Linked DNA regions of Homo sapiens: region 2 is reported to be linked to region 1. Evidence: microRNA targets listed by miRTarBase, many of them from high-throughput screens and not tested one by one. Region 1 holds a microRNA gene; the other region holds the end of a gene's coding sequence.

The links. Region 1 holds the annotated microRNA hsa-miR-151a-5p (UCGAGGAGCUCACAGUCUAGU, at 2,130-2,150, opposite strand). A microRNA usually pairs through its seed, bases 2 to 8, with sites in the 3' UTR of a target mRNA and lowers its output. Matches are read on the target gene's strand: a 7mer-m8 pairs with bases 2 to 8, a 7mer-A1 pairs with bases 2 to 7 and ends in A, and an 8mer does both.
Region 2: the mRNA of CCT5 is a reported target of hsa-miR-151a-5p. The part of its 3' UTR that is shown has no 7-base or 8-base seed match.

The regions. Positions count from the first base shown.
Region 1 is chr8:140,730,494-140,733,493 of GRCh38, forward strand. MIR151A (microRNA 151a) reads right to left here and starts at 2,160; the gene lies at 2,071-2,160. The region is part of intron 25 of PTK2 (protein tyrosine kinase 2); the gene reads right to left.
Region 2 is chr5:10,264,195-10,267,729 of GRCh38, forward strand. It overlaps CCT5 (chaperonin containing TCP1 subunit 5), which reads left to right. Exons shown (of 11, transcript NM_012073.5): 11 at 462-2,195. The coding sequence ends at 589. Among named protein-coding and RNA genes, the nearest start is that of CCT5, 16 kb to the left of the region's middle.

The DNA.
Region 1 (3,000 bases):
CCCTTGGAGGGTGAACAGTGATTAGAAAGGGGCATGTGGAAGATTTCTGGGGTGCTGGTAGTATTTTCATTTTGGTTGCTGGTGACAGACTGTATCCAACTGGTGGAAATCCAGTAAGCTGTCACTTCTTGGTGTGTTTATTAAACATCAATAAAAAGTTTTAAAATATACAAAAATCATAACACAAAATTTTAAAGTGATAATTGTGTTTACTGCCCTAATTTGCCTAAAATATATTTAAGAATTTTAACATTAACCTAAAATATTTTTCTAATATGAGATAAAGCTGATGTTCTTTTTTAAAATAGTGGTACCAACACCTTAGTCAAGAAGAGTACTGTTGGGACATATTATTTTTGAACATACCTGCAAAAAGGCAAATAATAAAGCTGTTTATTATGGTTTCCCTGTCATAGTACCTAACAAAGAATTAACTGAAGTAACCAGGAATTAAATTAAACCCCCCCCCCCCTTTTTTTTTTGAGACAAAGTCTCACTCTTGTCTCCCGGGCTGGAGTGCAATGGCGCAATACCGGCTCACTGCAACCTCTGCCTCCCCAGGTTCAAGCGACTCTCTTGCCTCAGCCTCTTGAATACCTGGGATTACAGGTGCCTGCCACCACGCCGGGCTAATTTTTGTATTTTTAGTAGAGACGGGGTTTCACCATGTTGGCCAGGTTTGTCTCGAGCTCCTGACCTCAGGTGATCCACCTGCCTCGGCCTCCCAAACTGCTGGGATTACAGGCTTGAGCCACTGCGCCCGGCTAAATGATTTTTCACTCAAAAAATATTTGGTGCGCTCTTATAACCTGACAGTCATAAAGCACAAAAATGCTAGAGTACGCATTATAAGAAAATTTCACTGTTGATCAATTGAAAGTATTCCTATTGAGGAATTTTTTATACTTGATAATAGGCCACTGGCAGGTTAATCTCATTCTACTTCTCAATGAATTCATACCTATGAATAAGTAAACAGGATGTAGGAAGGACAGGTTCCTTGAGTCACAGACATCACCTCATCAAAGTAGGACCAAGGTGATTTTCCTATGAGTTTGCCCAACATGTTCCATACCAAAAATCACTTCTCAACTAATATAGTCAAAAACAAATATACAAGGCTGGGCATGGTGGCTCATGCCTGTAATCTCAGTACTTTGAAAGGCCAAGGTGGGTGGATTGCTTGAGCTCAGGAGTTTGAGACCAGCCTGGGCAACATGGCAAAACCCCATCTCTACCAAAAATACAAAAAATTAGCTGGGTGTGGTGGTGTGGTGTGCATGCCTGTAGTCCCAGCTACTCAGGAGGCTAAGGTGGGAGAATCACTTGAGCATGGGAGGTGGAGGTTGCAGGCAGCAGAGATGGTGCCACCGCACTCTAGCCTGGGCAACAGAGGAGACCCCGCCTCAACAAAATAAAATACACACGCATACACTCCAGTTAAAGATGAGGGGAATCCCACAGTAATTTGAGTCTACTTGCAAATATTCTTTCAAGGTAGGGAAGGAGAATTCTTTCGAGGTCAAGAAGAAGAATGGGATTTGGGAAACATTTTTAACTACCATAATTTTAACGACCAAAGGGCTATCCAAACTTATTATTTCTTTGTTAAAATCTTGGAAATAATAAAAATTTTGAAAAAAATTAATAACCTATTTAGTTATTGTGATACACTGTTATATGCAAATGTCCAAGTAAGCAATTATATTATATAGTGACATTTTATAATATAAAATGGTGGCCTATTTGGTAGCCTAATTGTATATGTTCAAAACGCAAAGTTAAACACCATTTCTAAAACAGAACAATGCAGAATGAATGAATGCTCAACTACCTGTGCTAGTAGTATATAAGAAGATATCCATAAATTATACTACAGGTACCTATTTAAAGTAATTATATGTAGTTCTAAAAATATGTATTGGATACTTTTTGGAGATAATTTACCTCAGTGGAGCATTCCTTAGTATTAAGAATCACTCATATGTTCTAAGCCTTGAATTCAGTGCCTGGGTGACTCTTCCTGTATCTAGCTAGCTAGGCTACTGGCCTGGAGGTTTGGGCAACACCGAGGTGAGTATGACCATCCCTGTCCTCAAGGAGCTTCAGTCTAGTAGGGGATGAGACATACTAGACTGTGAGCTCCTCGAGGGCAGGAAAAGTGTTTTAGTCATCTTTGCCCCAGTGACTAGCACCAGGCTCAGCTACTGTAGGTGCTCAACAGTGTTTATCGAACTGAATTGAACACGGGTTGCAGCCATCTATAGCAGCATAGGGTAAGCCTGACAAGAAGAACAAAGAGCTTTGGAGACTCAGAGGGTGAAGGCTAGTCAGCTGTGAAGTCACAGAAGACCCAGTGCGTGAAAGAAGCCGAGAAAGATGGGTAAGATCTCCCCAAATGAAGAAGGAGGCATTCTGGGCTGACAGGAGGGTTAGTTTAGCTACTGTGTGTGAAAGGGATGAGAAGACAATCTCAGGCCATAATGAAATGAGGCCTAAATGTTACTGTGGAAGCCTTTACCCAAACATAAAAGGTGACAAAACCCCACTGAAAGTTGTTTTGACCAGGGGAGTTATTTTTCCAGTGACATTTCAGGAAGATTGACTAAGCTGGTCATGCCAGACAGATGGGAAAAGAGCGTGGGATGGAGGGTGGGGGGCAGGCACAAGGAGTGAAGCATGACTCCAAGATGGTGCCGAAGATAAAGGCACTATTCCAACCTGGAGGAAGTGAGGAGGAAGGGCTGGCATAGAAGAGAATGTAACAGCTTGCTTTCTGGATAAACATGATGCCCAGCCAGCAATTTAAAATGTAGGTTTGGGACTTGAGAAAAGGGCAGGACCAGAACTATAGACAGACAGAGGTAAGCAGCAAAGCCATGTGAATGGGTCAGACATCCTGGGAAGAGTAATGAGAGAAAATGGGAGAAAATAAGAGGCTGAAAACAGAAATTTGGTTAATATTCATGGTAAAGGTGGAGAGATGGCAAGTCAATGAGG
Region 2 (3,535 bases), not on the chromosome of region 1:
AACCCGGGACGCAGAGGTTCCAGTGAGCTGAGATCGCACTGTTGTATTCCAGCCTGGGTGACACCTGTCTCCAAAAAAAAAATTAGCATTTCTAGATCTTTCTTGGAAATATCTTACATTTCAGCTGTGGTCAGATGGACTTACTTTAGATTTCCTAAGTTAGGGTATGGATACTTTGTGGGATAAGATGTTCCTGAAAAATGTCACCCTGTAGCTAGTCATTGAAGACAGTGCCCTCCCAACAGCTCTCTTTACCAGGTGCGAGTTCCAGAGTGTCCTTGGAAGTAATGAAATTACATTCATCTGAAAATGAAATATAACTGAAATTAGTGGCTTCCTGCTTGGCTTCCAGGAGTTTGTATTTCTTAAGTCTTACTGTGATTCCCTAAATCAGAAAGAGTTGGTTATTGATAGTTTATTGTATGCTATTTTAGGATAATCAGTGTCCTTGTATTTTTCAGATATGAAGCAACAGCATGTCATAGAAACCTTGATTGGCAAAAAGCAACAGATATCTCTTGCAACACAAATGGTTAGAATGATTTTGAAGATTGATGACATTCGTAAGCCTGGAGAATCTGAAGAATGAAGACATTGAGAAAACTATGTAGCAAGATCCACTTCTGTGATTAAGTAAATGGATGTCTCGTGATGCATCTACAGTTATTTATTGTTACATCCTTTTCCAGACACTGTAGATGCTATAATAAAAATAGCTGTTTGGTAACCATAGTTTCACTTGTTCAAAGCTGTGTAATCGTGGGGGTACCATCTCAACTGCTTTTGTATTCATTGTATTAAAAGAATCTGTTTAAACAACCTTTATCTTCTCTTCGGGTTTAAGAAACGTTTATTGTAACAGTAATTAAATGCTGCCTTAATTGAAGGGGTTTGGGTGGATTTTTTTTTCTCAAAATAAGCTGTAGGGACTATTTTAACAGCTTAAACAGGAGCTCTCAAGATGCACTTTCATATTGAGAGGAATATGGGCTTGATCCTCTTCCTATCTAAATGGGTGGGCCATTTGATTGTAGAGGGTCCACCACAGAATTATGGGATGCCTTAAGTGCTGTTACTAGGTTGCTCACAGCCTAACCTGGCGTGTTGTTTAGGGCTGATGGAGACCCATGTGAGCCTTTGCTTTCCTCTGGCCCCGGCCCCACCCTGAACACAGCTCATACACAGAATCAGGACCAGCATGTGCAGAGCTGGCCACCAGCACAGGCTTAGGGCAGTTCAGAACCCACTTGTTTCCCTATCAGAGGGACACAGTGAAGTGGAGGTTAAAGTAAATTACAGGAAATAAGGGAGAAATCTTGCAGTTACCATGTTCAGATAGAGTGACTGAAATTAATTGTACTTACTAAAGTATTAACTAGCTAACAGTGATGGGCCAAGACGCTCCGAGAACTCTACCGGGATTGTCTGTTCTGACAACCCAGTGAGGCAGATACACTTTCTTACTGCTCACATCTTACAGGTGAGTACTCATAATTGGCCAGCATCTCACCACCAGCAAGTAGTAGGGCCAGGTCAATCCCAGGCAGTCTGACCCCAGAGTGGCCCAGCTCATCCCCTACTCTGTTATTTGCTTGTTAATGATTCTCTAGATTTTCTAAAATAATGTTTCTTAGCATTGTGATGATAAAGCTCATGATGAACTTTATCACTAGTTATGCCACCTTAACTAGTCAGATTTCCTAGAATTAGGAAATGGTGACTCTTGTCTAAATTTGGTTAAGTGATGAATTTGGGTTACCGTCTCATGTGAACCTGGAGATTCACCAGTCTTAACTTTTGGGTCATTGTGTTTTCTCTACATTCATGCATTGGATGTTTTGCTAAATAACTCCTGTGGATTTAGGAATGTGTGCTAATAGCAATCTTCCTAATTTTCATGTTTATATGGAACTATGCAGTTGAGTATTGAAAGCTTTAAACTGAGTTTATTTACAAGGACTGAGTCTAGCCTACAGAGAACATACAGCAGCCTTCTTTGGACCACAGTCTTATCCGAGGGGTCTGTGGTTGTATCAGAAGAGCCACTAAACCAATCCCCCTTTCCAAAATTGAACCTCACAGACGTTCCTGTTTTTTGTGATTGAGAAACTGGTCAATGAACAGGAAGACTTAGAGATGTTTCACAAGCCTTTGATTTTTGTTTCATTTATTTGTAATAAACCTCTTCCACGTGATGTCTTTTATTTTTCACGTTCCAGATCACTCAAGTTTTATTTTGCTGGTACTTTGGCCACACCCTCTCCTTCCCCATGTGGAGCAAAAGCAACTTAGGGTGCTTGACCCAAAGGCTAGATTCCCATGTAAGTCCCCATGTATTACTGCTGGTTCCCGATTTCTACACCTGCTAGATTCATTGGAGGTTTGTTAAATGTCCTGTTTTTAATTTCAGCCTACTCAATTTCTATGTGGGGGCAGTTCCAGGATGTCCTGTAGGTGCCAGATTTCATGGACGCTCAAGTCCCTGATAAAAATCGTGGTATTTGCATATAACATACATCCTCCTGTATACTTTAAATCATCTCTATTATTCATAATATCTAATATAAATGATATGTAAGTGTCATACTGTATTTAGGGAGTAATGACAAGAAAAAATCTACATGTTCAGTACAGATGCAATTTTTTTCTCTGAATGTTCTCAACCTGAGGTTGGTTGAATTCAGATGAGGGTCAACTCTGCAAGCAGCCGCTGTGAGGCACAAATGTCACAGGGAGGGCTAAGAGGCCCATCTCTCTGTTACATTGGACTGAATTTCTTGACTCTCATTTTCTTTCTCTAGGTGAAACAGCTCCAACAGATTGAGGGTTGGGGGGTGTGGCCAGAGGAAGGTGACACGGTAGTAACTGACTAATCAGTAATTTGTAAGCATGGAGAAGTTTCTCCAACCTAGGTGTTCCTTGCAGGCAGTCTTGGCAGAATGGGGTCATCTAAAAGCACCAGAAAAGTGGGGACCAAAGGCAAATGGCCGAGAAAGTGTTGAAGGGCAGGAAAAGTGGGGAAAACACGACAAGGTAGTAAAAATATAAATGTGTGTGCCCTATCACTGCTCTAAATGGTTTATGTACATTAAAACTGGTTTTCAAAGTCTGCTCCATGGATCCCTCGGGGTCCTGGGTCTTTCCAAGGGGCCTATGAGTCAAATGTATTTTCCTACACTGAAGTTACTGCCCTTTTCACTGTGTTGACTTTTGCACTGATGGTGCAAAAGCAGTGACCATTAAAACCACACCTTAGTGTGAGTCAGGTAGTGGCACCATACACTTTCAAAAAGAAAATCATCTTTTTGGCCAGGTGCAGTGGCTCGCACCTGTAATCCCAGCACTTTGGGAGGCTGAGGCAAGAGGAGTCGCTCTAGCCCAGGAGTCAGAGACCAGCCTGGGCAACATACACCCTGTCTCTACCAAAAATAAGTTAGTTGGGCCTGATGGCATGCTTATATGGTCCCAGCTACTTGGGAGGCTGAAGTGGGAAGATCCTTTTGAGCCCAGGAGGTTGAGGGTGCAGTGAGCCATG